Regions from separate parts of the Homo sapiens genome. Here region 1 is linked to region 2. The links come from fine-mapping of genetic effects on gene expression. A gene starts in region 2. The other region holds a variant in brackets. All regions are shown on one strand. Distances are between the middles of the regions.

What was found. PIP is the estimated chance that this variant, and not a neighbour inherited with it, causes the effect.
Region 1: its variant is fine-mapped to the expression of TMEM65 in lung (TOPMed, PIP 0.98).

Annotation. Positions count from the first base shown.
Region 1 is chr8:124,171,062-124,187,243 of GRCh38, reverse strand. It overlaps FER1L6-AS2 (FER1L6 antisense RNA 2), which reads left to right and starts at 15,722. Exons shown (of 5, transcript NR_103547.1): 1 at 15,722-15,816. The variant C/T (reference allele first, on the strand shown) is at 8,512.
Region 2 is chr8:124,363,462-124,379,643 of GRCh38, reverse strand. TMEM65 (transmembrane protein 65) reads left to right here and starts at 6,943. Exons shown (of 7, transcript NM_194291.3): 1 at 6,943-7,790. The coding sequence starts at 7,487. RefSeq lists enhancers at 6,381-6,570, 6,782-7,076 and silencers at 6,801-7,030, 7,151-7,420, 7,551-7,680, 7,731-7,860, 7,871-7,920.

The sequences.
Region 1 (16,182 bases), 190 kb after region 2:
AGGAGATAACTGGACGATCACAAGACAATGACAGTGGGTATTAGCTTCAAAGTTACTTTCCCTGAGAAGCTTTTCCAGATAGTGTGGTCTAGATCAGATCCCCCTATTGAATGCTTACTTTCTATTTTTAAAAATCTTTTTATTTTGACCCAATCTAAAACTTGTAGCAAAGTTGCAAGAATAATTAAATAATTCTTGTATATTCTTTATCCAGATTCCCCAGGTATTTGCATTTTTCTTCATTTGATTTCTCTTTCACTAGACACACATACACACAAACACAAACACACACATTATTTTATTTCTAAAATATTTGAAAGTTACAAACATGGTGTCCTTTTACCCCTACATGTTTTAGTATGTATTTTCTAAAAACAAGGATTATTCTCTTACAGAATCACAGTAAAATTATCAATTTATGAACATTATAATGGACAGAACACTATTATCTAATGTATAGCTCTTATTCGTATTCCTATCTGGTATCTATTTCTCTGTCTATCTTTTCACCAATTGTCCCAATACTCCCCTTTATAGAAAGAGTAAGTCCTGGATGATGTGTTGTATTCAGTTTCATGTCTCTTTGACCTCCTTTCATCTTGAATAGTTCTAGTTCTTCCTTTGTCATTAATGACATTGACATTTTTGAAGAGTATGAGTCATTTAGCATAATGCCCCTCAGTGTGACTTGAGTTTCTCAGATGATTAGATTCAGGTTATGGATTTTTGGCAGGAATATTATAAAAGTACATTGTGCTCATTTTAGTGAATGATTTCAGGAGGCACACAATGTTCGTCTCTCTCATTACTGAGGATGTTAACTTTGGTTAAGGTGATGTTATTTTCTTCACTATAAAGTTACTATTTTCCCCTTTATAATTAATTATTATCTCTTGACAGAGAGCCTTTGAGGCTATATAAATACCTTCTTAATTATTAAATTTTTCACCCACTAGTTTTAACATCCATATCAATGGATGCTTTAATCAATTATTATTATGATAGTTGCCAAGTGATGGTTTTCTATTTCCATCATTCCTTCTACATTTATTTGTTGGTGTTCTAATTTAAGAAAGAGAGTTTCCTTCTCCCATATTATCCATGTATCAGTATGGACTCATGGGTTCTTTTTTGTTTGTTTTTTTTTGTTTGTTTTGAGACGAAGTCTTGCTCTGTCACGGGGGCTGGGGTACAGTGGTGTGATCTCGGCTCACTGCAGCCTCCACCTCCTGGGTTCAAGAAATTCTCCTGCCTCAGCCTCCCGAGTAGCTGGGACTACAGGTACATGTCACCATGCCTGGCTAATTTTTGTATTTTTAGTAGAGATGAGTTTTCACCATGTTGGCCACGATGGTCTTGATCTCCTTACCTTGTGATCCGCCCGCCTCAGTGGATTGCAGGTGTGAGCCATCGTACCTGGCCAGGTTCTTACTTTATTGTATGGTTTAATAATTCACTACTATTGCTGTTTATTGTGATGCTCAAATTGTCCCAGAAATGGCCTGTAGTAGCCTCTTCAAGCTGTCTTCTATGTTCTTTTGACAAGTTTCCATCATTCTTCAAGGACTTCCTTACTTCCTGGCACACCAAGATGTTTTAGGCTGACATCAGCAGCATGATGGGAGCATCAGGACAGCCTTTCTCGAAACTCTTCATGGTCTTTGGTTCTCTCCCCTGTTTCCTCCATCCCTGCTCTGGGGAAAGATGTCCTAGGAATTTGAAGAGTGCACAAAATGAGGCTTAAGGTTCCTGACTCTTTGGCCAGTGATCTACCAGCCAGCAATCTGTGTCATCCAAGAGTCCCTGGATCCAGGGACATGTTGCTTCCCCACCTGTCCTCCCCTTGATACCTGGATTTTTAAAGGCATTGACTTGCCTCCACCTCAGATTTCTCTTCTCTGTGAGCATTCCCAGTTCCCAGACTTGGGCTGGGTATTGGTTTGATTTGAATTTAAGGAAAGTAATTGCCAAATTACTGAATAGTATATCTTTTGTGGCGATGGTTGTATTCTGAACAACAGAGTAAAGGCAATGTTTGGACTGTGGAATCCTGGCTCTGCCATTTTCTAGCTCTGTGTTTTTGGGCAAGATGTTTAACCTCCCTAAGTCTTAGTCTTCTCATTTGTAAAATGAGGATAGTAAACATCCATTTTGAAAAGACATTGTGAAGAAATATCCAATAATGCTTTGGAAAATAGTACCTGGTACCTGGTGTTATTAAATACTGGCTTCCCCTCTCTCCCAGTATCCCTTTATCAGATCTTGTTGAAGGACTCTGACTGGCCTTGCATGGGTCTATAAACTCATCTCTTAGCCTGGAGAATGCTGTATTCTGATTAGATGAGCCTGGATCATTTGTCTACCTCTTTGGGGATAGGGTGGGAATAGGGTGAAGTGTGCTTGGTTCCACCTGATCCACATGGAATGTACTCAAACAGGAAAGAAGGGGGAGGGGTGAAAGGTGAACAAACAGATGTCCATGCAGCTCTTAACCCTCACCTGTCCTTCTTGATGACCCCTCTGTTTCTGACTTATTCCTTCCCCCCATTTCCCACCATTATTAAAACTTCCAAGCTCAGCATTTCATTCAAATGGGTCTGATATCTGAATGTTCAATAAATATGCATTGATTGAATAAATAAGTAATGGCTTTTTTTCTTACTCCATCTGGGGAATTTTTAATCCCTGCAGGAAGCCTCCTTATAGGTCTGAAAGGACAAGTGAAGAAATCTAGAACTCGAAGAGCTATAGAGAGGGTCACCCAACAGGAGCCAAGGCCTTGGGTGGAGGAATGCAATCAACTTTAGGCAACCCTGTGGGGCCATGCTTTAGGGAATAAACACCCAACCTCATTCTTCTTCCACCTGCTAATCTCCTCTTGATGCCTCTCCCTGGCCAAACACAACCCGAAGCCAGAGGGCAAAGCAGCCTGCTAATGTAGTCCATCTGGGTCAGCTTCCTGGGGGCACAGAGCAGGTGGGAGAAGTAGCCAACAGATCTGAGGAGGAAACAAATTATCCAGTATACCCTTGTATCTTTAGCACCAAGGCATGGTGTTATCAGTGAACTGATTAATTCATTAATTTGCCTGATAATTCTTGAGCTTATGTGTTACCTCTTAGAAGCATTCCCTGATGTGCCCAGCCAGAGCTTTTCTCTCTTTGCTCATTACCCCTTTTTATTTTTTATTTTTCTATTTTTTTTTGAGACAGAGTTTCACTCTGTCACCCAGGCTGGAGTGCAGTGGTGCCATTTCAGCTCACTGCAACCTCTGCCTCCTGGGTTCAAGTGATTCTCCTGCCTCAGCCTCCCGAGTAGCTGGGACTACAGGCATGCGCCACCACGCCCAGCTCATTATTATTATTATTATTATTTTGTATTTTTAGTAGAGATGGGGTTTCGCCATGTTGGCCAGGCTGGTCTCAGACTCCTGACCTCAGGTAATCCGCCCACCTCGGTCTCCCAAAATGCTTGGATTATAGGCGTTAGCCACCACACCTGGCCTCATTTCCCCTTTTAAACACTTCCTGAGAGTTACCATAGGCATCTCTCACACATCTGTCTCCTCCCTGAGGCCCCTCTGAGCTCCCTAAAGCAGGGGCTTGTTTGAATTCATCTGAGCACCTCCAAAACTGAGCACAGGAGGCTGACTCAGAGCAGTGTTTAGAATGTGCTCTGAAAGTGAACAGCCATGTGGATGATTCATTGAATTGAGCTGATGCAAAAGACCTTGCCTGAGATGGTCCAGTTGTCAGCCCATAGAAGGGGGGTGGTGGAGCATGTTCTTTGCACAGTGGCTGCGTAGGTGTTAGGGCCTTATGCGAGACTGCAGGGGGACTGTGGGATTGAGGGATTGTGGCTGACTATGGCAGACAATTGAAGTATGACCCAGTCCTGGAGCCCCTTGCTGAGAGTTAGCAGACCACCGTTGTAGTTCTAGCTGCTACATGTGAGAGATAGTCCATCTTGGTAGTTAACAGGATGAGTATTGGAGTCAGGCTACCTGGTCTCAAATCCTGGCTGTGTGACCTCAGGCAAAATCCTTAACCCATCTACAAAATGGGGATGATAAGTTAACCTGGTAAAATTATTATAAGGACTAAGAGAGTTAATTCACATAAGGTTCTAGGGACAGCATTTAGCCTTTACTTGTAGATATATTCATTTACTTACTATAACTTCCAATTTACAGATGGGAAAGCCGAGGCACAGAGAGGTTAAATAAATCATCCATGTTCACACAGCCACTAAGTGGTAGGGCCAGAATTTAAGCACACACCATTTGGCCCTTAGTGACCTTCCTGAACCATTGCACCATTTGGCTTTGCTCCATGTGGGCAAGTCCTTAAAGAATATTATTATAGGACCTGGGAGCTGGAAGAAAGGAGAAGCTCAAAATGGAAAGTTCTATAATAATAAGTATAAGGATAATGGTGTTTTATAGATCAGCAAGATCTGATGGCAAGAACAAATTTCAATTCCCATTTTTCTAAGTGTCTTCTCCTTAAACAAGATAATGCAGATAAATCCATAATAATTAGCTCACTTTCCTTAGACTGGGTCCTGGAAATAAATAAACTAATGAAAAGGCCTTCATCTCTGATGTTACAACCTTGGGCAATGGACCGGTGAGGGTCAGGCACTAATTTTGATGTACAGGATGCGGTGGGAGGAAGAACTGTCTAAGACTTTGCTACCCAAATTCTGCTCCTTAGACCAGCAGTGAAGACTCACCTGGGAGCTTGTTGGAAATGCAGAATCGCTTTCCTCAACCCAGACCTATTGAATCTGAATCTGTATTCAACGTTGAAACAATTTTTAACAAAGCAATTCATATGCACATTAAAATTTGAAACACTATTACTGATGCTTGAGTCCTACATATCCCCACCCCACCCTCTCCCCCCAAGTCAGAAATTCTTAAGTAATTGGCCTGGGCATTAAGATTTTTCAAAACTCCCCATCTTCCAACATGGGGATTCCAAAATGCAGCAAAGTTTGAGAACCGCTGTTCTAAGGAGATGAGCCCTAGAGAAGGGAGCAGCTATAGCTGGCATACTGTCCTCCTGTTGAGACAGACTTCAGACTCTACCCAAGTGCTCTGATTTTAATTGCAGCTGCTCAGGACAGCCTAGTCCTAGTCCAGCAGGAGCCACAAAGTGCCTTCTGCCACTAGCCACAGCCATTTTACAAAATGCCTGGGCCACAAAGCTGCTTTGCCGTGAACCCTGGGCAGAAATTAAGAGTGGAAGGATGAGTATTATAACTTCCTTCTACTACTTCTATTATTCATTATGCCCAGTCAATGGGTCTAATTTTTATTTTTAAAAGCTTCCTTCCTATTGAGGAATTTGGCTGATTCATGGAGATATGTTTGGCAGCATTGAGATAAGTTTTGGGCTGGAATTTAGGAAACCACGAATTCTTCCAGAAAAGGTCAGAGGAAAAGTTACTTTCTGTTGTGAAATTAAATAATTCAAACCTAAAGCTGGCGGAACTTTAAATTATGTTGAGCCTTGAGAGCAATGCGGCCATGTGACCTGAGTCATATAGCATGCAGCTGCAACTTCTGGTTTTTCCTGTAAATGATTCGGAAGGACCGAATGGTGCCAGAGTTAAGACCTTTCCAGGCCATTACCCCTCCTTATGGAATGTTAAAGGAACCTTCCTTGGCATGCAACAAGCTGTAACCAATCAAATCACTGTAACATGTACTGACCTTGCATGGAAAATGTTGTAACCCTATTACACTTCTCTGTCTCTGCCTTATAAGTGAAACCTTAACTTCTCCACTTTGGAGCACTGACCCCATTCCTTTGGAGTCTATGTTTCCCAAGTGGCTATCCTCAAGCTTTGTGCTGAAATAAACTCAATACTTCATCATATTTTCTGAATTTCATTATTTGAGGGTGACACTTCAATAACACATTAGTGGCGAAAATTTTCTTCACTTCTTTTTTTTGAGGTAGGTTTGATTATGAATTGAACATGGAAATTGGACCTAAGAGAGAGAGAGAGACAGGCCTCACTGAGTGGAGTTAAAGAGCATATAAGTCTACAAAGCCGAGAGATTCAGGGACCAGCCACATATTTGCCACTGAATACATCTGAAAACAGCCAACCTACGTGCTTACTCTGTGCTAACCTTCATTCTAAGGGCTGTGCAAGGATGACTTAATCCTCATAATAGCCCTATAATGTGGAAACTGTTGTCATACCCACTTTACAGAGATTATCATCAAGGCTTAGAAGAGTTACGTGACTTGCTCAGGGTTGCTCGGCTTGTAACTGCTGGAGCTGGCCTTCCAAATCAGGCCTCCCAACGGACTCCCAAGCCCGCTGCCTCTGATATACCACACTTTCTACTGAGAAGTAGCATGCTGGAATTCTAAGAAGGTGTCATTTTAGTTCTGAAACAACGGAGGAAGAATTTTACAAAGAGGCCAGATGGAAAGAGAGTTGGATAAAGGAATAATATGAAAGCACTCTTCAGTCTGGGCAACATTTGGAAGAGGTTACACTGCAACTTAATTTAGGCGAGTCTTTTTCTGGGGACAAGGAAATGTCCTTGTGGTCAACTCAGTAGAATTTCATTTTAACAGAGCCAGTGGATTCTCAGGTTTCTGAGAACAAGCACGCCACTGCTTTTTGTCATTAGCATGTAACTGCTGTTCAAGTCAAACTGGTATTTAGTGACTATGAAGTAGCAAAGGAAATCTGAGACGAAAATGCAAACAAATCTGCTTGCATGCTGCGGTCACCGTCTTTTGCAAGTTTATTCAACCAGTGTTCATTGAGTGGGTGCCTTGTGCCACATCCTGTGCTTCACAGATTACAGTAGCCCACTTATCCTTGAGGAGTGGGCATAGTACCCCAGTCTAGAGATGGGAGCACTGAGGTTCAATGAAGATCTGAAATAGGTCTCAGGCTGACTCCAGAGCTTGTCCTCTTTACTGTATATCCTCTTGACGTTATAGTCCAAGGGATCTCCCTTTATAGTCCAAAGGAATCTTTCTTGGCATGTAACAAGCACAATCTTAAACTTCTTAAGCTTCAGATGTACCTGGGGTGTTGATTAACAGGCAGATTCCTGGGCCCTACTTCAAGTGAATCTGATTCTAGAAGTCTGGAGTTGGAGCCCCAGAAACTGCATGTTCAATCCTAACCCCCAATTTAGTGGTCTGAAGACTGAACTTAGTGAGTGCTATGTCAGTACTTCTCCCAGCCCCAGTCCCTGCCATAAGAAATTCACAGCTCAATCAGAGGAGGCAGACACACAATGGATTATTACAACACAAACGTGTAATCTCTAAAAAGAGGATAGGTCCTAGGATGTTCAGGCATCTGTTGTCCAGGTAGAAAGAAACAGCTGTTGGTGGGAGCAAGGCATGGCACGAAGGGGAGCAGAGCTACAGCCCTTTCCCCAGAACGCCTGTGACAGCAGACACTCCCTTTATAAACTCAGGCTTCATGCCCTTGCAGCTAGCACCACCCCACCCAAACACCACACACACACACACACACACACACACACACACACACACACACACACACAGACACACACACAGACACACACACACACACACACACACACTCTGCACCTCTCATTAATAATCAAGTCCCGTTGGCCAGAGCTTCCAAACGCTCTGAAATCTATGCATTTTTCTCGTCCTCACTGGTATTACTGTAGTGCAATCCACCACCACTCCCCTCTACCATGCAATAGCCTTCTAAAGGCACCCATCCTTGCTCCCCTCTAATTATTTTCTACAGTATCCAGGGTGATCTTTTGAAAATGTAAATCAGATTTACACATCACCCCCACCCCCATTTTAAGCTTCTCTATAGACTAAAGCCCAGATCATTATGTGTCTTGGTCTGCAAGCCTTTTCCCCATCTGGTGCTGCTTGCTGGGCAACTGCGAGGCTCACCTCCCTTATCCCTAGCACTCCATGGTCCTCATGCAAAGCCATGTGCAATTCTTCAAACCTGTTCTTTCTGCCTAGCTTTTCCATAGACTGCTCCCTCTGCCTGGAATGCCCTCCCCACCTCCGTCTGGGTAACGCTCAGAGTGCAGGGCTCTGCTCAGATGCTACTTCAGGAAGCCTTGTGACCCCTCGTACCATGTGAATTGAGTGCCCCTTGTCTGTCTCTCACAGTCCTGCCCATTTCTTCTCCGTGCACTCTGCACCCAGCACCCTGTATTTTGACTGCTTATTGCTCTCTCTTCTCCACTGGACTATAAACCCCATGAGGATAAGGGCTCACTTATCTTGACCTCCCTGTGTGTCTGAGTCATGCACAGTGCTGTGCTCAGGATGGGCTCGTGCCATATTGTTTGGGTGAAGGAATGGACAGTGGTGGGTGATGAGTGTCATCAGTCCTGGTAATTTGGTCTCAAAGACCCTTCCAGCCTTGTTCCCAAGGGCCCCTTACTATTTACTTTCATCTTGGACCTGGAGGACTTGATTCCATTGGTCCAGAAATGAACATTTTTGACAAGTTCTGTCA[C/T]TTGATGCTAATGTAGGTGATTGCTGAATCTTTTCTTTTCTATTTTTGAGATGGATTCTCTCTCTGTTGCCCAGCCTGGAGTGCAGTGGCATGATATCGGCTCACTGCAACCTCCGCCTCCTGGGTTCAAGCGATTCTCCTTCCTCAGCCTGCCAAGTAGCTGAGACTACAGGCGTGCACCACCATGCCCAACTAATTTTTGTATTTTTAGTAGAGATGGGGTTTCACCATGTTGGCCAGGGGCTGGTCTCAAACTCCTGACCTCAGGTGATCCTCCTGCCTCGGCCTCCCAAAGTGCTGGGATTATAGGCGTGAACCACTGCCCCCAGTCCCTGAATCTTACTTGGAGAAATTCTGCTGGGTCATTTTCAGGCAGGGCTGAGGGGTGCGGGGACTCTCTGAGGGGTGGGGGGACTCTCTGAGGGGTGGGGGGACTCTCTGAGGGGTGGGGCTTGTCTTCTCTCTGTAAGGGGGACAAATGTCTTACCATGGGGGTAGAAGAAAAGAGCATAAAAGAGGGCAGAGCCAGTTCCTGTGGGCCTGTCCTATTTAACAACAACATAATGACAGCTAATATTATAGGATGCACGTTATGCACTAGGCCTCACACTAAGTGCTGTTTGTGGATTATCTCATTTGATCTTTCCAACCACCTGCTGAGTTGAGTACTATTATTCCCATTCTACACACATTGAAACTGACAATTAGAAATTGTAAGTTAAGCTGCCAGTGACCGGCAGATCTTAAATTCGGTCACTCCATGACTTTTCCTAGAATGTAGGGATGCAAGGTGCAGTGATTTCGGACTAGAAATGGATCTAAGGAAAATAAAGTTTCAGTTGGAAGTGAAAAGGAGAAAAAAGGTGGGATGAGAAGAAAAGAACTAAGAGGTAGAATTCCAAGCTCATTAACAGCTGGTCCTTCTGATGTTCCCAGCTGTAAGATGCCATTACTACATGGTAAGCCCTGGAAATCAAATTAGTGTGTCTCAGCCCAACCAGCCTAAGACCATCAGGGACAACCACGTAGTCTGACAGAATCAAATTTATTGACACATTGTAATGAGGGAGATCACACACCACAGAATCACGGAGAGTCTCACCAAACAAAGGAAGACGGAGTTATCATAGGAATTGGGGAAAGTATGGAGGTCAGGGAGAGCTGAAATGAAGCAGAGTTTTTATAAGCACAAAACAAATCAAGGCTGTGTATAAAGGGACCATCAGTTCTGAACAGCAAAGTGGAGGCAGGCTGCTGTTTCCCTGGAAACTACCAAGTGAAGGTAGACATGAAATGTGTCTAGAAACTCCTTATCTGAAACTCTGTAATGGAGTTGGAAATCGATGCTGCTTTTTTGTGTCAAAGTGACTTGGATTCTCCAGGCCAGAGTGGGCTATCTCATTCTTACTGAAATGATTTCAGATGGTGATGTTTCTAATAGTCTATGATTTTAGAGCACAAAGTCCCTCAGTGAGTAAGAAGTAACAGTCACAGAGAAGGGTTTGCTATGACATGTTGTGGCTCCTGGGGAGAAATATTGTCTCCTATCCACGCAGCTGTTGAATGTATTTGTGCCGGCATTCTTCTCTGTCTTATCTTTTTCTGTTGTCTTAATTGCCTTATTCTGCCTAATCCGTGTTTAGTCTGATGAATGGCTAGGCAGAATTTTTAAATTTATATTTAATTTTTAACATGTATCTTTTTATTCCCACAAATCTCATTTTAAAATCGACAAATAAAAATTATACATATTTATGGTGTACAACATGTTTCAAAATATGTACACATTGTGGAATGGCTAAATTGAACTAATTAGCACATGCATTAACCCCATACCATTTATTTGTGACAAGGACACTTAAAATCTACTTTCTTCACAATTTTCAAGTATGAAATACATTGTTCTTAACTATAGTCACCATACTGTACGATAGATCTCTTAAACTTTTCCTCCTGTGTAACTGAAACTTTTGTATTCTTTGACCAAATCTCTGCAATCCCTTAGGCAGATTTTTACTTTCTCATTCTTGGCTAATTTTTATTTTCTTCGGGCTCACATGTGTATTGGTTTCCTGTAGCTGTTGTAACAAAGTACCACCAACTGGGTGGCTTAAAATAGTAGAAAGACACTGTCTCATGGTTCTAGAGGCCAGAAGACCAGCATCAAGGTGTTGGTAGGGTTGGTTCCCTGTGGGAGAGTCTTCTATCTATTCTCTCTTTCAGTTTCTAGTGGCAGCTGCCAGTCCTTGATGTTCCTTTTCTTGTAGATGCTTCACTCCAATCTCTGCCTCTATCTTTGCGTGGTGTTCTCCCAGTGTCTGTCTTCACATGAGGTCTTCTTTCAAGGACACCAGTCTTATTCAATTAATTAGGGGCTCACACTACTCCAGGATGACCTTATTTCAATTTAGCTAATTACATTGCAAATACTTTATTTCCAAATAAGGTCACATTCTGAGTCCTGAAGGTTAGGACCTCAACATAAGCTTTTTGGAGGGACACAATTTAACTTTTAACAATGAGGAACAAAACACATTTGTTTCTAGGCCAGGGCCTAATGAGAATTAGTGCCTTGTCGCTACTCAAGTGTGGTCCACAGACAGGCAGCTTCTCCTCACCTGGGAGTGTACTAGAAATGCAGAATCTGGGATCCTGCTCCAGTCCAATGCATCAGAACCTATATTTCGACATTATCCCCATGTGATTTGTCTGCACATTAAAGTATGCAAAATAGAGTTAGTGCAGAAGCTTATTGCCCAATAGCAGCCCTGGGGACACTGCCAGTTTAAAATCTATTGGTTATTAGGAATTAAGATCCTGAAAGAAACCACCCCAGCCAGATGTGGTGGTGCATGCCTGTAGTTCCAGCTATTCAGGAGGAAGAGGTGGGAGAATTGGCTTGAACCCAAGAGTTCAGCCTGAGCCATATAGCAAGATCCCATCTCTAAAACAAACCAAAACAAAAACAACTCTTTGAAGAAACCAGCAACTGTAACAGTGGGACACAGCTAAAGAGGAGAGATTGGATTTGGGTTGTAGGTCTGCTGAGGCCTTAGGGAGGGCTGATGGGGAAGGAAGAGGAGGGAGCAGAACTGGGGCTGCTGGAATTACCCCAGCTGTTTCCAAACAGTGCAGACGTCACATAAGCACTGTAGGCCTCACTTTCCTCATCTGTAAAGTGGGCTAATACCTCCTATCCCAGTGACTGGTGTGAGAATTAAGTGTGAAATGGCAAGGGTAAATGCAAAATGAATAGCAGTTGAAGACACACAGATTGGGTCCAGCCTGAAAGAGGCAGCTGGGAAGGGGAGGCAGCTCATTCTGTCATGTCTTCATTCATTCCACATTTAGTACCTCCTCTGTGCCTGACGCTATAGTAACAGGAGTAAGTCCTCCTGTGACTCATGGTTATATGGAGGAGAAAATGAGCAAGTTTCTGAGCACTAACAATGGAAGCTGACTCAGGAACTTCTCACAGTGTGGCCCATGGGTATCAGATGGGGCACTCTGGGCCCCAGCTTGCAACAGGCAGGCTAATTCCAGGCTTTACTGCATGGTTTTACGCTCCTCTGCCTCCTTTCTTCTCATCAGTTTGGTTCCAAAAAAATGGTGGATGTGAGTCTGTAGCTGTCAGATTTAGGTGAGTCTAGCCAGTTAAAAACAACAAGGCCCAGCACTTGAGAGGCCGAGGCGGGTGGATCATGAGGTCAGGAGATTGAGACCATCCTGGCTAACATGGTGAAATCCCATCTCTACTAAAAATACAAAAAAGAAAAATTAGCCAGGCGTAGTGGCGGGCACCTGTAATCCCAGCTACTCAGGAGGCTGAGGCAGAAGAATGGTGTGAACCCGGGAGATGGAGCTTGCAGTGGGCCAAGATCACGCCACTGCACTCCAGCCTGGGCGATAGAGCTAGACTCCGTCTCAAAAAACAAACAAACAAACAAACAAACAACAACAACAAAAAAAAAAACAAGGCAGCTTCCATTCTGGAGAACGTAATGGATAGATTGTCTCATTTAAGTTTCCAGGCAAAACTTTGAGGGGTAGTAGGGGTATACCAAACTGATGTCAGCAAACCTAGCAAACCTAGGTCTGAATGCAGGATGACTTGGATAAGCTGCTTAACTCTGAGTTTCCTAATTATTTTTATTTTTATTTATTTATTTATTTTTGAGACAGAGTCTCAATCTGTCACCCAGGCTGGAGTGCAGTGGCGTGATCTCGGCTCACTACAATCTCCACCTCCCAGGTTCAAGAGATTCTCCTGCCTCAGCCTCCTGAGTAGCTGGGATTACAGGCCCCCACCACCACATCTGGCTAATTTTTGTATTTTTAGTAGAGATGGGGCTTTCACCATGTTGCCCAGGCTGGTCTCAAACTGCTGACCTCAAGTGATCTACCTGCCTCTGCCTCCTAAAGTGCTAGGATTACAGGTAAGAGCCACGGCACCTGGCCTCCTCCTTATTTTTAAGTGGGATAATAATGGTACCTACCACACAGTGCCTGGCACATGTTGATAATGTTAGTCTTTTGTAGAATTGAATCTTTCAAGTGTCAGTGGCAAGTGGACCTCCTGCTGCCTTTCCCTCTAGGAGACACTAGGTGCTACCCTGACTCTGAAAGAGACACCCTCTGCTCCCCACAAGTTCTCAGATGCCGGGTAGGCTTCCCAGAGCCCCTACAATGATTTAGCATAGGCTTTACTGAATTGTAGAAGAGAAAGAAGAAATTCGACATTCTATTTCCGAGTAATGAGCAAATTGCCATTTCTTAACGTTATTTCTAAGCCATTATGAAGAATTCAACAATCAGCGCTAATGAAGAGAAATAAATACCACATGGGAAGAACCCTGGGCACCAGCTTCAAACTTGTTCTGAATTTGGGCTCTGGGAATAATCTAATTTCCTGAAAAATGTTGCCTTTTTTTCTTTCTGTCTCTCACCTGCTCTCCAGTGGAGATGGTAAGAAAGGTTAAATGAGAAAGAAGGAGATTCAAGTTGTGATCAAAGCAATTGGAAGACTTTCCATTATTTTGCTTTAGTTTTCATCATAGAACTTCTCAATTTTTCAATAATTACAGTTTGTTTTTTCTGCTTTCTCCCTGCACTATAATCAAAGCTGCATGAGACTAGCAACTTTGTTTGATTCACCCTGGCACCCAGCACAGTGTCTGGCACATAAAAGCACATGCTCAATGAATGTGGGTTGAATGCATAAATGAATGATATACTCAAGAAGTTGCTCTAAACCCTGATTATAATTCAACAATACTGTGGGCTTTTCAAAAAAATTCAAGTTTCCAGATTCTTCATCCCAGAAATTGATTCAGAAATTCTGGCGTGGGTCCCCAAAAAGAGCATTTTTAAATATCTGTTTATATCTCTGGAAGGATCCATGAGAAATTAGTAACATCAGTTGCTTATAGGGAGGGGAATGGGGCAGATGGGGGCCACAGATAATAGGGAGACTTTTAACTGAATCTCCCTCTGTGTTTTTAAAAAACGTGAGTAATATATTATGTACTCTTAAAAGAAAAAAAATTTAAACTAAAGAATAAAAAATGTTTAGTCCAGGTGATATGCAGCCAGGATTGAAAATTCCCATTACAGACAAGTTGCTATTTCAAAGAGGAGCTGGGATTGGACAGCACGATTGAGAGGTGGGCCCCTGCTCAGCTTGAGTAATGGGCTGTCACTTAGGCAGGCTGGGAGGAGAATTTACTCTACAGGACATTGCTAGGTCCTGTAATCAACTGGGGAGAATGAGAGGGAGCCGTTGTCTGTTATTTATTTATTTATTTATTTATCTTTAGATGGATTCTCTCTCTGTCACCCAGGCTAGAGTGCAATGGCGCAATCTCAGCTCACTGCAACATCTGCCTCCAGGGTTCAAGTGATTCTCGTGCCTCAGCCTCCCAAATAGCTGGGATTACAGGTGTGTGCCACCACACCAGGCTAATTTTTGTATTTTTAGTAGAGACAGGGGTTTTCCATGTTGGCCAGGCTTGTCTCAAACTCCTGACCTCAGGTGATCCTCCCCTCTCAGCCTCCCAAAGTGCTGGAATTACAGACGAGAGCCACCGTGCCCAACCAGTTTTCTGTTATACCAGGTGTTCAGGAACCTCAAATCCTGTGTTTGAGTTAAAAAGAAAAGAAATTTCCTGTGTGCCGAGATAACCAAGTGCTCAACAAGAAGCCAACATGTCCATCCTTAATTAGTAATCAAAGTCTTACAAAAAAATCAAATCAATTTTTTTTATCAGATTGGCAAAGATTACAAGAATAATAGCTAGCCTTGGGGGAGGTATGGAGAAACAGAGTCTTACATACTACTTGTAGGAGAAGAGTGCTACAGCCTTTTGGGAGAGCAATTTTGCAATTCAGGCCAAAACCCTTAAAGGTATTTACATGACACCTTTTGCTGTGCCGAACCTTTATTAACCTCATTAGGGAAGACACCAGGTTCAAGAGGCCAGAAACCCAGCAAACAAGACATAGGGTTTTATTAGCGGCTTACATACAGGGGAGAGAGTCCAGTGGCACCGGGCTGGACAAGATATCCACCTTATATCCAGGCCAGTGGTGGCAGGCTGGGCAGGAAAAACACAACGGCCTGCAAACAGCGTGTAGTTTATATAGCATTTTCAGTTAACAGCTTCCCCTTAACGACCTCCACCTGGCAACTTTCAGGTACCCCCCCCCCCCCCCCCCCCCCCCCCCCGCCGCCCAAACTCAGGGCCTCAATCCTTCCTTATGGCCCATGTTCAACGGGACGGGACGGGACGGGACGGGGACTCAGATGTTTCTCATAAACAAGGAATGAATCTCTGGGTTGGCCACTCCTGGATTCCCTAGCTTGAAACACACATTCAGGTGCGTCTGCCATACAGGTTTATTCTAATTGTATGCTTAAATTATTACTCTCAGGGGCTTTTACCCTGCACCTTAGTAATGGTGTAGTAATTCTTGGATTTAGTAATTCGGCATTTAGCCCATGGAAGTTGAATGGTTTGGTTCTGTGTTCCCACCTACATCTCATCTTGAATTGCAATCCCAATTATAATCCCCAGGTCCAGGAAGGGACCTGTTGGAAGGTGGTTGAATCACAGGGGCGGTTCCCGCAAGCTGTTCTCGTGATAGTGAGTGAATTCTCACGAGAGCTGATGGTTCTATAAATGGCGGTTTCCCCAGCTCGCTCTTGCCTGCTGCTACGTGAGACGTGTACGCTTCTGTTTCACCTTCCGCTGTGATTCTAAGTTTCCTGAAGCCGGCTACCCTGCTTCCTGTTAAGCCTGTGGAACTGTGAGTCAATTAAACCTCTTTGCTTTATAATTAGCTAGTGTTAGGTGGTACTCTTTATAGCAATGTGAAAACGGACTAATACAGAAGAAGTATTCAGCCAAGTGAGCAAATTAATATACGTAAAGGTCTTTATATCATAGTATTTATAATAGTGATTATGTTGGTTAGAAACTGTAAACAATATAAAAGCCAACCAATATAGGATCATTTAAATTATGGTATAGTCATCTGTCCCTTACTATTCATGGAGGGAATTGGTGCCAGGACCCCCCAACAGAAGCGAAAATCTGAGGATGCTCAGGTCCTTTATATAAAATGGCACAATATTTGCATATAACCTACTACACACAGTTTCCCATACCTTAA
Region 2 (16,182 bases):
ATAGTCAATAATAATTTAATTGTACATTTTAAAATAAATAAAAGAGTAAAATTAGATCATTTATAGCACAAAGGATAAATGCTTGAAGGGATTCATACCCCATTTTCCATGATGCGATTATTAAGCATGGCATGCCTGTTTCAAAACATCTCATGTACCCCATAAATACATACACCTGCTATGTACCCATGAAAATTAAAAATTAAAAAAATAGTTATTGCAGCATCTAAATATTTCAAAGCCTCACTAAGAATTTGACTTTAAAGTTTGAAGAGAGGGCATTTTATGTCTATGCTTATATTTACTTTAATCAAGACCCTTCCCCAACCTCAAAGGCAAAGGTCAACATGGAAGGGGAAAAAGTTACAAAATAGTGCCTTGAAGAGTCAGGTAGTTGTTTGTGTGTTTGTGCCTGTACATGCATGTGTATGTGTGTGTATGTGTGTCTCTCTGTGTATTTGTGCACGTATGCACTTTTTATGTTGGGTGTGGAATAAAGACTTGTTGCATATAGGTGTGTTATTGTAGGTGTTGCATATAAATGTGATATTATAGGCAGATAAACATGAGCCTCATAGAGTATGAAATTAAGCACAGAAGTTTTGAGTTTCCAAGTGACAGCCCCTTTCTTATATTTTTCATCCTGTTTTCATGAAATACTATGTCTTGCCTTGTGCTTGGCATTTTTTAGCAGGTAGATTAAATCTTTTTTTGTTGTTGTTTTTTGTTTTTTGTGATGGAGTCTCACTCTGTTGCCCAGGCTGGAGTGCAGTTGCATGATCTTGGCTCACTGCAACCTTTGCCTCCTGGGTTCAAGCAATTCTCCTGCCTCAGCGTCCCAAGTAGCTGGGATTACAGGCATCCACCACCATGCCCAGCTAATTTTTGTATTTTTAGTAGGGGGGTTTCACCATGTTGGTCAGGCTGGTCTCAGACTCCTGACCTTAATTGATCCACTCGCCTCAGCCTTCCAAAGTGTTGGGATTACAGTCGTGAGCCACCACACCCAGCCTAGATAAAATCTTTAGAAATGAAGTGCCCCAGTGGTGATGATGAAAAGCCGTATTGAATGAATGGTGTAGAGGAGTACAAAGGACTCAAAAGAGGAGATTGTCTGTTTGAGATTTATTTAGGATTTCTCAGGTATTTTAGACCAAAATAATTCCATAGTTACTTTCTTTGTTTCTGTTTAAATTGTGTATACTTATCATAAACAATTCAAGCAAGAGAGACAAATGCAAAGGAGAAGGTTACAAAAATCATTCAAGTTTCCAACAACAAAAATGACCAGTCTTACATTAGGTGAACATAGTTTCAGGCCATAAACCTCAGCAGTCTCCAGTTTTCCTTCTACCTTGTTGCCTCATGTGCCTCTTACAAGTTCTCACTGATGAGGAGTCCCAGGGTCAGGACCAGACTCTCTGCTCATCTCTATCTTTACCCCAATGGCAACCTGATCAGCTTATAGCTTTAAATGATACCTGGATGCTGATGACTCCCAAATTTATGTATCCAAACTTCTTCCTTTGAAACCTGGACAGCTAGAATGTAAGGGGTTGTTGAGTGAAGGAAAGCTGAGAAAACAGAGATCCTAGTTGTGTTCTCTTTCTTTTAGCTTTAAAGTTGAATTAGTCTCTGACACTTCTAGATATACGGTCTATTGCTAACACTAGTTTTTACATCTTGAGGCCTTTTAATGCTACCTATCATTTGTTGAACATCTACTACATGTTAGGTACTGTGTCTTTCTTTTTTTAAACATACATTGTCTCATTTTACCCTTATGATTCTGTGAGGTAGATTTTCATAAAAATCAAAACAAAACAAAAACAAACAAACAAAAAAAACAAAGGCTTAGATTGATAAGCAACATGTCCGAATTGATACAGCTGGTAGGTGTTAGAGTTAGGATTCAAGCTCAGGGGATCAATCCTCTTTCTGGTATGCTATATCTATTTGTATTTCAATGTGAATTTTCATATCAGTTTGACAATTTCCACACACACACATACAGACACACAAACCCAGCTGGGATTTTGACTGGGATCAAACACTGAATTTATAGATTAATTTGGTGTGATGATTAATTTTATGTCAACTTGACTGGGCCAAGGGATGCCCAGGTAACTGGTAAAATATTATTTCTGGGTATGTTGGCGAGGGTATTTCTGGAGGAGATCAGCATCTGAACTGGTAGACTGAGTAAAGAAGTTCACATTCACCAATGTGAGTGGGCATCATCTAATACACAGAAGGCTGAAATAGAACAAAAAGGCAGAAGAAGGGTAAAAATACTACCTCTGCCTGAGCTGAGGCATCTGTCTCCTCCAGCTCTCGGACATTGGTGGTCCTGGTTCTCAGGCCTTCAGACTTGGACTGGGACTTACACTTGTGACCCCCTGGTTCTCAGGCTATCAGAATTGGACTAAATTATACCACCAGCTTTCCTGGGCCTTCAGCTTGCAGACAGCAGATAATGAAACTTCTCAGCCTCCATAACCATACCAGCCAATTCCTCATAATTAATTTCATTCTGTATATATTTCTATATCCTATTGGTTGTGTTTCTCTGGAGAACCCTGACAAATGCATTTAGGGAGAATTGACATCTTATACTACTGAGTTTTTCAATCTTGAATTGGTATTTCTCTCCACTTATTTAAGTCTTCTTTAATTGTTCTAATAAGACTTTGTGGTTTCCATTGTGAAGAAACAATTTATTCACCACCACTGTGATGGGGCAGAGGCCTTCCAGGGGTCAGAATACTAAGGCAGGAGCTTGATGGATGAGAAGTGCAATGAGGAAATTGCAAAAATATGGGCAGAAGAAATGATTAAAGGGTCCACTAGGTAAAGCAACAATTTCAAGAATTTTAAAGCAGAATAGCTGGGTGTATAAAGTTTCATCAATGGCAGGCAGCAAACAGCTGTGTGCCCTGCCAGCAACAGGGAAGCCAGGAACTCTGGAGCGTATTTATATGATGCAGCTTACCATGGACTGATGATTCAGCAGCAATTTTTCATGAGGAGGAAACTGTGATTGTTAACCGAGGTATGACAGTTGTCCTCTTTAAAAGCGAAGAACAGGCTGGGCTGAACTCAGGCCAAGTTTGCCTTCTGGGCTTTCCTTCCTTCTATCTTCCATTTCTGTAGCCCCTCCAGCCTGCTAGCATTTCCTCTTCAGCACCATCATATTTCTTCGGAAACTCCCCTTTGCCACCTGCATCTAGACCTGCTCCACAGCCCCATAAACGATCCCCAAATTATCTCCCTCCCTAGATCCTTCATCCATTCATATTTAGGATATTCAGGTGTTCAGAGAAGGAAGTGGTTAGGGGATGCAGTTAATACACATCCATGTATTAAATGACAGATAGCTAGGTGGGCATTTCTCAAATGAGGGTCCAAAGACATAATCGTAGAGATTTGAGAGGTCCGTGGGCATTTAGATAATAATAGCTAGTATTTATTGCATGCTTGTCATGTATCAGGTGCTGTTTGAAATGCTTTACATGTATTATTTGGTTTCACTATAACATTACAAAGCAGATGCCCTTATCTATATTTAACAGGTGAGCAAACTGAACATGTTCTTATTCCCATTAAACAGATGGGCAACCACGGAAAGGTTGATCAGCTCAAGGTTACACAGCTAAGAAATGACAGTATAAGGACTCAAATCCAGGCAGTCTGAGTCTAGAGCTAGTGCTCTCAACCCCAATGCTGTCATCTGGGGCTCAATTGAGCCTGGATGGTCCAAGATGCTGTCATGCATGTTTGGCAGTTAGCTGGGGCTGTTGGCTACGGCCTCCTCCTCCATTTGGTCTTTCCAGCAGGATACATCAGACTTCTTTATGCAGCAGCTGGATTCCAAAAGGTAAATGTCTTCGAGGCAATTTTTCCATGTGGAAAATTACCTTGATGCAATGGCAGCCTCCATGTATACACCTACAGGTCACGAAATAGATAGGCTTATAGGCCAAATTAAGAAGCTTAAATCACATTATCTGGTGGTTCTAAAACGTATCCTCAAAGGTTTTGGCATTACTCCTATTAAGATGTGGGGTTTATATCCCTTTCCCTTGAATAGGGGCTGGCCCTAGGGGTTGGCTTATAGCCAGTAGAATACAGTGGAAGTGATACTGTGTGACTTCCAAGGATAGGTCAGAAAACGCCACAAGCCTGCTTCTTTTTAGACATTCACTCTGGGGAAAGCCAGCTGTCTGGTGAGAAGATCACCATGCTGGAGTGGCTGTGTGAAAGTGCTCTGGTTCTCAGCCCCATTTGAGCTACCAGTCAGCCATGTCAGTGAGCCATCTTAGCTATTCAGCCCAGCTGAACTTTCAAATGACAGCAGTTGTGTTGAAATCTGATTGATACTACATAAACGACTCCAATAAAATAACTGTCCAAGTAAGTTCTTCCCCAATTTCTGAGCCTCAAAATTAAGAGCAAAATAAATTGGCTAATTAAACTACTAAGTTTTGGCATAATGTGTCTACCCAAAGAGCAGCAATAATAACCAGAAGAGTTTACCAACCAACATAAAACAGAGTGAGAAGCAAGGGGAAAGAGATAGGGTAGATTAATAAGCTTAGGATAGGCTGAAGGACCATAGCACCTAAATTCTGTTTTATGCAATGTTCTCATGTCTTATCCCTCTCCACCATCCAGTCTTCTCAGCACATAGTGTGGCTACAAGGACCAGACTGGAGAGTAAGTAAGGTGACTCAACAGACTGAAGGGGCCTGGGCTCAACATATGTCTGTTCTGTTACAGAGCTGAGGGGCAAGTGTGTCTGGTTATAATGGTAGCTGGCATTAGTTGGCTTTGTAGCTGGGGGTTTATCTGCTTTTCTTGGGAAGAGATTACATGAGGCCATAATAGCGTTACAATGGGTGTTACCAGTAGGTATGCAATTTAGGGATGACATGGCTGTAAATCTGAAGATAGTATGATCTGTACCTTATTAATACTTAAAAGTCCACTTTGTCTTTCTGCCTCTATCTAAAGCAGCATTTTCATTTGTTCCATCCTTTTTATCTATGTTCAACCCATATCCATTCATTCTATGTGTAACCTTTCTCATAAGTGACTTGCTTCTACATTTTAGTTTCTCTTGTTTTATAATAGAATTAAATATTCTATAGTAATATAGCAAAAGCATTACAGCAAACCCCAATGAGCAAACATGTATCATATCACGTTTATGATGTCCTCCTATTTATTGACCAAAACAAGTCAAATAGCCAAGCCCACAGTCAATGTAGAGGTGGACCACACAACGGAGCGGATAATAGAAGGTGTAGTTCATTGGGGATCACTACTATAACAATCTAATACTAACACATAGTTAGGAGACGGTTGATCCAGGGATCGAACTTTCCACAGTCTGTCTCTGGAGGCTACACACTAAACTACTATTCTGGAGGTGGTTGGGAATGGGTTCTTACTGAAGAACTTTTTTCAAACCTCACTTCCCAGGTCTGGGGCCTGTGATCCACCCCAGTGAATCAGAATATCTTGGGGGTAGGAAATTGTGGGGGGGATGGGGTGGTACTCCCATGAGCCTGAGACTGAAATAGCTCTGCAGAGGATTCCAGTGCACACTAGGGAATGAAGGGGGTTTCAAAGACAAGGAAGATATACTTTATGCACTCAAAAAGCTTTCATTTCCACAGAGAGCATTCTTAATTGTTGTTATTACATCACAGAGGCATCACCTTGGAATTTAAAAAAGAAGCGATTCCTTTCAATGTTTAAGAGACATCAGTGTTTCTCAAGCTTTCGTGTGTGTTATTACTGGAGGGCTTGTTAAAACCCACATGACTGGGTCCAATGTCTACGTTCTGATTCAGGAGGTGTGAAGTGGGGTCCACTATTTCTCACGTCTAAAAAGCTCTGGGACACACTTTGAGAACCAGAGTTAGAGAAGTAGGAGGCTTTAGTGGTAACAATCCTCCATTATTCAGTTTAATATTCTACTTACATGTAGCACATTTACTACCTACAAGTTTCCGGGCTGAGTGCAGCACTGTTTATGATAAGGATGGGATTTAGATCTTGATTACGCTCCAGCAGATTTATTAAGTGGATTTATTCTCTAAGGGTGCCTAAGCGTCATTAGACAGGTTCAGATAAAGCAGAGATCTCCTCCCTTAGAAGAGATTAGGGACAGCTTAATGAAGTAGGAGACCTTTCACCTGGGCCTTGAAAGATGCCTAGGACCTGGATCAGGGGAAATCGTGGACAATCAAATTATTCTTCCCGCTTTAGCACAGAGACAAAAAAATCACAAGCAACCACTAGGAAAGGTCTATGACATTCTTGCCTCTGCCTCTAGCATTAACAATTTGCATGCCAGCTGCTGGAATCTGAACGGGGAGGACTGTTCTCGTGTCAAGGGCTCAGTCTCAGACCCTCCTTGGGCAGGGGTGGAACTGGCTTCGCTTTCTCTTTGGGGCGCCCAGAGCGACTGCATTAGAGCCGGCCTGCTCGGCCGAAGCGGCGGTGGGCGCTGACTTGGCGAAGGGCGCAGCTGGGGCGCTTCGTTCCGGAGCAGAGCGCCGTGATCCCGTCGGGGCTGGGGTGGCAGCGCAGCTCTCCGCCTGTCCAGAGCGGGGCCGCACGCCGGGGCACCTTTCAGAACAAGCTCCAGATGTGGCCCCAGGTTGGGGGCCGGGTGGCAGCTGTACTACCCTGGCGGGCGAGGGGTCCAGAGCTCGTTTTCCCTATTCCGATCTGTAGGTTTAACGCCAGCACAGGGTGGCGCACCCTACCTCCTTCCACCTTCACGCACCAGCGCGGGAGGGGACGCGTGTGCACGCTCCTCCCCTAGGAGGGAGGGCGGCCCGAGAGCCTGCAGACTGCGCCTGCGCAGCCTCGCTCACACACCTCCCCGCCCCCCCGCACCTCCTTCCCCTTTCGCCCCGCCCCGTTCCCACTTCTGCTGCCGCTAGGGGTAGCGGCGGCGGCGGCGGCTGCGGCTCGGGAGCGCGGCTGCTTTGAGGGCTCGGGAACCTTACAGAGTGGGGACGTGGGGAGGCTAGAGGGTGAGAAAGCTGGCGGGAGAGTAGGGCGGCGCTGGAGGAGGGCGGTGCGTGGCTGACTCATCCTCTGGAAGATCAGACTGACAGAGACACACACTAGCCCGCCCCGCCCGCCCGCGCCGCTCCTCCTCAGCCGGGAGGCGCCCGCCCGCACCGACCGCCCGCCCTCTCCGGGCGCTGTCCGGGCCCGGCCGTCTCAGAGAAAGTTTTTCCCATCGGAGGGGCGGGAGCCGCCGCGGGCCTTTTGGAAAGGAAGTGGGGACGGAACAGGAGGCGAGAGCCGCGCGGGCCCGCGGAGTGCATGGTGCCCGGCGCCTCGGCTGCCTGGCAGGAGGACCTCGGGGCGGGGTCGAGCTGAGCCCAGCTCCTTCTCGCCTCAGCCGCGCCAGAAACCGCCTTGCCGGACGGCCGCGGGGGTCCCAGCTCCTCAGCTCGCCATGTCCCGGCTGCTGCCGCTGCTGAGGAGCCGGACCGCGCGCAGCCTGAGGCCGGGCCCGGCCGCCGCCGCCGCGCCCCGCCCGCCGTCCTGGTGCTGCTGCGGGCGGGGGCTGCTGGCGCTCGCGCCCCCCGGCGGCTTGCCGGGCGGCCCCAGGCGGCTGGGCACGCACCCCAAGAAGGAGCCCATGGAGGCGCTGAACACGGCGCAGGGCGCGCGCGACTTCATCTACAGCCTGCACTCCACGGAGAGGAGCTGCCTGCTCAAAGAGCTGCACCGCTTCGAGTCTATTGCCATTGCCCAAGGTAAGGGGGGCAGGTGGGGGGCGAGCCCGGGGGCCCCGACGCCCTCCTCTTCTCGCCAGCCCACCGGGAGCCCGCTGCGGCCCTGGATCTTGGACCCCCGCCGCCGCCCCCCTTCCGCCCCCCTCGCCTGTCTGGCCCCACGCCTGGGACGGCTGGGGGCGGGGAGACTTTCCGCCGCCCGAGTTTCCCCCAGGCAGGTAGGACGGGCGCGGGTCGTGCCAGGCAGCCGAGGCCAGCGCTAGCTACTTCCTCCCCAGCCTCCGAATCCGGAGCTTCGGCCTAAAATGCCAGTTAACGCTGTTGGGATTGAGTTTTGATTTGCCCCGTGCCTCCCCTCCCCAGCCCTCCTGTCCCTTAGCCCTTGCTGCTTTCTTGCGAGCGTGCACCCGTGCAGGTGGCATGCTGTGCCTGCTCCGAGAAAGTGCTGCAAACCCGCCTGGCAGGAAGAAACTTTTTGAACGGTTATCAAATGAAGACGTATGGGTGGGTAGCCAAAAGAAGGGGTGTAGCTTCGAAAGTCAGGGATGCTCATAGCTGCTTGTTTCCACACATGTCTGATTGCGTTAATTTCAGCAGCCAAAGGAAACATTTTCTCCAGAAATGGAAAGACAGATTCAAGTTAAACTCCAGTTTTGGTTTTTCCCAGAGGTTGAAAGAATGAAATAAATAAGGAGGTATATTTTTTGGAAATCTGTGGCTCTGTAGTAAAAGTCAGACTGATGCTCAAAAGTAATTGGGAATGATGAAAGCAAAACGATTTTTAAACTAGCATGTTAAAATAGGATATTTCTAAAAGGAGTCCAGAATGGGGTAGGGCAGAATTTGAGTCTAGGTGAAAAAGCTAAAAGTTCAGAAAATAAAAAGGATGAAAGGAGCAAACGACTAAAATGGATGTCTTAAAATATTTCTGCCACTTAAATACAGTTATGTAAACAAAACACATTGCTTCAGTTTGTATTACATTCTGATGTGTTTGAAAGTTTTAAAAAAGTTTACTCTCCTCTCTAAACTTGGTAGGTACATAAACATCTCATAGATTCCAAAGTGTAGAGCACATTGATTCGGATCATGCCATTTGATTTGCCAGACTTGAAAGTATATCTTTAGCTGATGTGCAGGAATGGAGGAAAGAATTATCTACCTCATGTAAGCAGGACGTTATCTGTACTACTTCAGAAACTTGTTTTAGTTGTGGCTTTTAATCAGATGTTTTCCCCCTCAGTTCAGGAAATTGTGGACCAATTTATAGTGGATGATTGATTCCAGACATTGTTTACCCACAGTGCTTTTACAGGAAAATGTAACGTCCGATCAATTCCGTTATTCAATGTGTAATCATGATGTTATATGCAATCATAATGAAACACTAGCACATTTGTAATCTATGTGTGCACTCAGTATGCAGTTTAAAAATAGTCAATTCTGAAAATATGCTCCTTGGAAAAATAATATAGTCAGTCATGTACTAGAACATTAACTTTTGAATCTTTCTGCACTGACAAGACTATTTGAACACACATTTTACCTTTTCCAAGTAATTTCTTGGAAATTCTGCATTGTCAACAAGTTACAAGATTGGAGGGCCCTATGAATATAGTTTTGTGGCAGTTCTTGAAAAACATGTCCTGCAAGGTGACTGAATAATTTTTTTCTCATACATTATTATTTTTTACATGCCAGCAGTATTGCAGTAGCAATGCTACATTTCCTAATAAAGATAATATTTTTAAATTTAACGTGGTTTTAAATATTCTGAAAAGGACCTAAGCACTTTAGTCAATGGAGATCATTAGCATCAATTAAACTTAGTTATGTTACTAATATGAGAGAGAAATTAGTAATTTAAATTGTCTTCTTTGCTCAGGAGAAACAGTCAAGGATATTTGAAACAATGGTTAGTCAGATGCTTATCTCTCCTCTTTATATGCTAAAGAACATCAAAGTTTAAATCAGCTATTTTTGCTGATGTCGATGACAAAATGATTGTCCTATGAATCAAATGACACAGATGCTGCTGCTTTGTTAGTGTATGTAGTCTTGGTGTTCACTTACTGTTTTCAGTATCAATACATATAGTTATGGAGATAACTAGAATCATCACTTAGGAAATTACCTTATTCATTAATCATTAAGGTAAAAGGGATTTTATTATGTTGGGAATGCGTACAGCTCATTCCATTGCTGAAATCAACAATTTTTTTCCAGCCAGATAAATGAAAAACTCCCATGTTTTCTTTTATTGTTGCTTTTTGAATAATGTTTTGAAGTACTCAACCGATGTATTGTGTGTGTGTACTAAGTGTACTTTCTAACAAAATTAATTCTATTTAAAGGGCTATTTCTTGCCATAGGCAATCTTGTGTGTCTTTGGAAAGGGTGCTTGTATAAACTAATGAAGTGTTTTGGATTTGGTATGGAAATGTTACTGAAAAAATATCATCCATGCTTTGATATGGCAGTGGAATCTGCTGTTGAAATTTGGCACATTTGCCCTTATCTTTCTTATATGTTTATCAGTAGGCATGTGATATAATCTGTGATGAGATAAAGCTTTGGAATCAGTTCGTAATAGATAAGGCAGACCTTGTGGGATATCTTATCATAGTTAAATAGAATATTGTGATTTTTAAAATTACAAACCAATTTCTTTCCCAATTTAAAAAAAAGTTGAGTTTGCGCCTTCAATTTACCTGCTCAGCCTGATCTCTCTTCTTCCAGAAACAGACCATATTCTGCTGATAGAGCATTATTCATGTTTTTACAAGTAGTACTGGCAAGCTGACATTATTACAGTGGCCTTTCAATGTTAGCCAAAATTTTTAAAACAAATTTTCTTCCCAATTTTTGTAATTAATATTTCCATTTATAATTATTTTTTAAAGCTTTTAAAATATAGCAATTTGGTATTGAAAAATAGACAGTGCTCATTGTATTAGTTATCCATTGCGGTATAACAAATTATCCTAAAACACAGTGGCTTAAAACAAGCATGTATTAACTCATAATTTCTGAGGCTCAGGAATGCTATAGCATCTTAGTTGAGTATTTCTGGCCCAGGATCTTAAGAAGTTGAAATCAAGCTCTCAGCTGGGGTGGCATCATCTGAAGTCTTAACTGGGGCTGGAGGATCCATTTCCAAGAAGTCTCACTCACATGGCTGTTGGCTGGATGTCTCAATTCCCTCCCATGTGGTCCTCCACAGGGCTGCCTGAGTATTCTCATGACATGGCAGTGGGTTTCCTCTAGAGCAAGTGATGAGAGAGCGAGAGAGCAAGAGAGAGCGAGTGTGTTTGCAAGACAGCACCTGTGGGCACCTAAGCTGGAAGCCACAGACTTTTATAACACAGTCTTAGTAGTGACAGTCCATCTCTTTTGTCCTGACACATTGTGGGAGAGTACTACAGAAGGTGTGAATACAAGGGAGTGGGAATCATCGGGGGTACATCTTTGAGGCTGGCTTCCACACTTATTTAAGGTGGTGTAATTAATGCTCATCAGAGAGTTACACAGAGAGACAAGAACTGGCTATTGGAGAGGTAAAATGAGAGATATGTTTTGAAAAAAGGAGCCTCTTAGGGAATATTTTTGTTATAATATGTATACTATAAGCCACAGACTTTTAAAACGCAGTCTTCGAAGTGACAGTCCATCTCTTTTGTCCTGACACATTGTGGGAGAGTACTACACAAGGTGTGAATACAAGGGAGTGGGAATCATCGGGGGTACATCTTTGAGGTTGGCTTCCACATTATTTAAGGTGGTGTAATTAATGCTCATCAGAGAGTTTACACAGAGAGACAAGAACTGGCTATTGGAGAGGTACAATGAGAGATATGTTTTGAAAAAGGGAGCCTCTTAGGGAATATTTTTGTTATAATATGTATACTTAAGATATTTAAAAAATGAGATTGTTTTTACATATAGCAAATAAAAGATGTATTGAGGTGAACAGAGCAGTTTTTCTATCAATGTTAGGTCTCAATTAGCTTGCATTTTTTGATTACTCTATGTGAGTGGTAATTGTGTGCTTTTGACATTTTTTACCATTTATCTACGTCTGTATACATTAACCAAATAATTCTAAACTTTAATCTTGTAGTCCCCCATTTTTTGTGATTGTTTAAGGTAGGGTGAAGAGCTTTGTTTTGAGAACTTGCCATATAGTATAAGAGGACGTTGACAAAATGAAAGACTGAAAGATAAAGAGCTTATACTAAATTGAGTATCTAAAACACTTAAAAATAAATTAGGCTTTCTTATGGAATCCCTGTTCACTAGAGATCTTGGACCTTTAACAAGATTATCCTTATTTTTTTTCAGCCCATTGCTCAGGATTATGTGAGAAAATAGAAATTCTTTTCTTAAATTTTTTTTATTTTTTGAGACAGAGTCTCACTCTGTTGCCCAGGGTGGAGTGCAGTGGTGCGATCTCAGCTCAGTGCAACTCCATCTCCCAGGTTCAAGCGATTCTCCTGCCTCAGCCTCCTGAGAAGCTGGGATTACAGACATGCACCACTGTGATTGGCTAAGTTTTGTATTTTTAGTAGAGGTGGGGTTTCACCATGTTGGCCAGGTTCATCTCGAACTCCTGACCTCAGGTGATCCACCGAGCTTAGCCTTCCAAAGTGCCGGGATTACAGCTGTGAGCACCGTGCCTAGCCTAAATATAAATTATTTTAAGCTATGAGCCTCTGGAATGGATTGGGAATAGTTTGCTTTTGTCCAATAAGAAAAAGGGCAAGAAAAACATTTTATACTGCAAATAAAGATACGTGAATAAAGATATTTCAGTGCCTTTGTTGAGATAGTAAAAAGGAATAAGGGAAGTATAGCCCCACCTAGGCCCGGCAAGAGGGGAAGAACAAGGACGTGGATAAGAAGTATGAATTGAGGCAAGAGGAGTGAGAGATCTCTGATGAGCCATGGGCTTCTATAAGTTGAGTTACACTCAGTTAAATGAAGCTTTGCTACAATCAGTTATTTTACCAATATGGAAAGAACCTAATTACAGTAGTATATTTCAGCAAGCTTAATTCTGAGTTCTTTAGAGTTACGGGGTATGTTGGAATGGTCTTATTACTAGGGATTACTGCCAGTAGAAGACAGATAATCAAGTAATCAAGTAAAGTTTTTTTTTTTCCATTATGAAAGGCATATATGCTGTTTAACAGTGTTTAATCATCACTTACATATAACATGTCCAGAGTTACGTGTGACTTCAAATAACAACCCTTCTATCATAGCTCATGATTTTGTGGATCAAGAATATAGGCAGTTGCAGGTACAGAGTTCATAGGAAATAAAAAAATAAAATTGAAAAAAAAAGGATATAGGCAGGGCTCAGCTGGATGCTGTTTCTTATGGTATCTATGGAGGTCATTACATAAACTTTGGCTGGCTGATGGTCTGGTCAGAAGGTCCAACATCGGTTTGTTTATGTGTCTGGTACTTTGGTGGATGGCTGGAGGGCTGGCCTCAACTGGAACTGTTGACCCAAGGAGATGGATGTGGCCTCACCAGCATGACAATGTTAGCATGGTTGTAATACTTAGGTCAGGGATCCCAGAGAAAATGTTCCAAGGGGGCTGGGTAGAAGCTGTAAGACTTTGTATTAGTTTTCTTTCTCTTTTTTGAGACGGAGTCTCGTGCTGTCACTCAGTCTGGAGTGCAGTGGTGTGATCTTGGCTCACTGCAACCTCTGCCTCCCGGGTTCAAGCGATTCTCCTGCTTCAGCCTCCCTGAGTAGCTGAGACTACAGGCACACACCACCACACTTGGCTAATTTTTGTATTTTTAGTAGAGGTGGGGTTTTGCCAGGTTGGCCAGGCTGGTCTGGAACTCCTGACCTCAAGCAATCCTCCTGCCTCGGCCTCCCAAAGTGCTGAGATTACAGGCGTGAACCTCCACGCCCGGCCTGTATTAGTTTTCTATTGCTGCTGTAACACCACAAATACAGTGGCATAAAACAACATATTCTCTTAGAGTTGTCAAAGTACAAAGTCCAAAATAAGTCTTAAAGGACTAAAATCAAAGTGTCAGCAAGGCTCTGTCCTTCTAGAGAGTCCAGGGCAGAATGTATTCTTTGCTTCTTTCATCTTTTGGGATTCCTTGGTTCCTGGACACATCACTAAAATCTCTGCTCCCTCATTGACCTTTTTGCCTCCCTATTATAAGAACCCTCATGATTATATTTAGGTTTTACCTGGATAATCCAGGATAATCTCACTCTCTCAAAATCCTTAATTTAATTACACTTGCAAAATTCTTTTTGCCATATAATGTAACATATATACAGGTTAGGGAATTAGAATGTGGGATATCTTTGGGGGCCATTATTCATCCTACCACAGACTTGTTATGACCTAGCTTTTGAAGTTCCAGAACATTATTTCTGCTGCATGTAATGGTCAAGCAAGTCACTAAAACCAGTTCAGATTCAAGGGAAGGGAAATTAAAAGGAGGACAGAAAGGTGATTCCTTATCAGACTCTTCACCTCTCTATTAAATAAACTTTTGGGTAATTGTTTTCCTTGATTGTGTTGTCTCTTCACTTCTAAATTCTTGACTAAATTGTAAATATTAGAAATTTGGGAAATATGGCTTCCAGGTAAGTCAAACACTTATATGTATAGTTTAATTTATCAGTAATTAATTTGCTGTTTTTCACCTTAATAGTCATTTATTGCCTATTTTTTATTTGTGACAAATTGTTATGATCAAATTTGTGGATAGGAAAATTGAAGTAATATAAAGTCAGCAATTTATAGGGTCATCCAGAGGGTCAGGTGGAACTACAGATCACGATCTTGAAAGTTTGAGATGATGTGATATTTTGCCATTATTAGTGGAGATTGTTTTCATTTTTCTAAAAATAGTGATGAGTTTGCATAACCACACTCTTGTCTGGTTTCCTTTGGTGTGTCTGGGTATAAAATAACTTGAACAAATAGGGACTAAATCCTTGAGTGTAGATTTTATTAGCATCTTGCCCAAGTCATCTGAATTAGTTAGTATGTAGCTTTACAGGACTGTAGCCTTGTCTTTGACTCACAGGTTTATGTCTGCTTTAAGTAAAGGAAAACACATAAAAACAAGTAGTTATATATTAAAATTACCTCAGACAGACAATAAGAGGTAAGAGTAAATAAGAGGTTCTTGTAGATAAAAGACTGTAGGTAACAAAATCATTTCTCCTAAGCTCTGAGACATTTACTTTGATTGCTTTTGATGATAAAATATTTGAACATATTGCATTTTTTATCTGCCTTAGTAAAAATATAATGAGCATAATTTAGCTTCTACCAGATGTCGGAGTCCTTATATACTATATTTTAATACAATAAGTTTCTTTGAGGTTACTTCTATTTGTAGACATGCTAATCATTACACCAAATGCCTCCAGAACACTGCTGTTTCAGTTGGCATGCTTTTTAGACTCTGTCATAGTGGTAGTGAAATGTGCTGGGCTTAGTCTGCCCCTCCCTCCTCCTCAGTGCTCTCAGACTTTTCTACTCTATTCTCATTCATTCCTTGTAGTTATGGTAAACTCTTTTCTGCTGTGTAAGGAGGTCTGCTTCATGACATCCTGTTATTGTTTCTAAAGTCTGATTTTACTTCTGCCAATTGTCACTCTTCCATTGTGTTTAATTTTCTTCTTTTTCCTGTCTTTTTACTTCCTCCCTTTGCTTTTCAGCAGGGTTTAATCTTGATAGACATTTCAAGGATCACTGTTCTCTTTTGTGTTTTCAGCTAACTAGTTGCATCTATCACATTATTATTGATTTTTGACTCTAGCTCTTGTACTAAAGATCTTTCTTTGATAATATCCCTCATAATAGGTTTTATAGTAGATTCTACTGCAAAGGCTATGGTTGCACAACAAAATCCTTTACATTCTCTTACTAAAGTTGTACTAGATAATAGAATTGCTCTAGATTACCTACTGGCTAAGTGGGGAAGAATCTGTGCAGTTGTTGATACTTCTTGTTTTTTTTTTTTTTTTTTTTTTTTTTTTTTTGAGACGGAGTCTCGCTCTGTCGCCCTGGCTGGAGTGCAGTGGCGGGATCTCGGCTCACTGCAAGCTCCGCCTCCCGGGTTCACACCATTCTCCTGCCTCAGCCTCCCAAGTAGCTGGGACTACAGGCGCCCGCCACTACGCCCGGCTAATTTTTTGTATTTTTAGTAGAGACGGGGTTTCACCGTTTTAGCTGGGATGGTCTCGATCTCCTGACCTCGTGATCCGCCCGCCTCGGCCTCCCAAAGTGCTGGGATTACAGGCGCTTCTTGTTTTACATGGATGTCTACATCAGGTATTATGGAGATTCAGTTGTAGGGGATTAATGAACAGGCTGCTTGGTTGAAAATGCATCAGAATTAAGCAGTTAACTGTGGA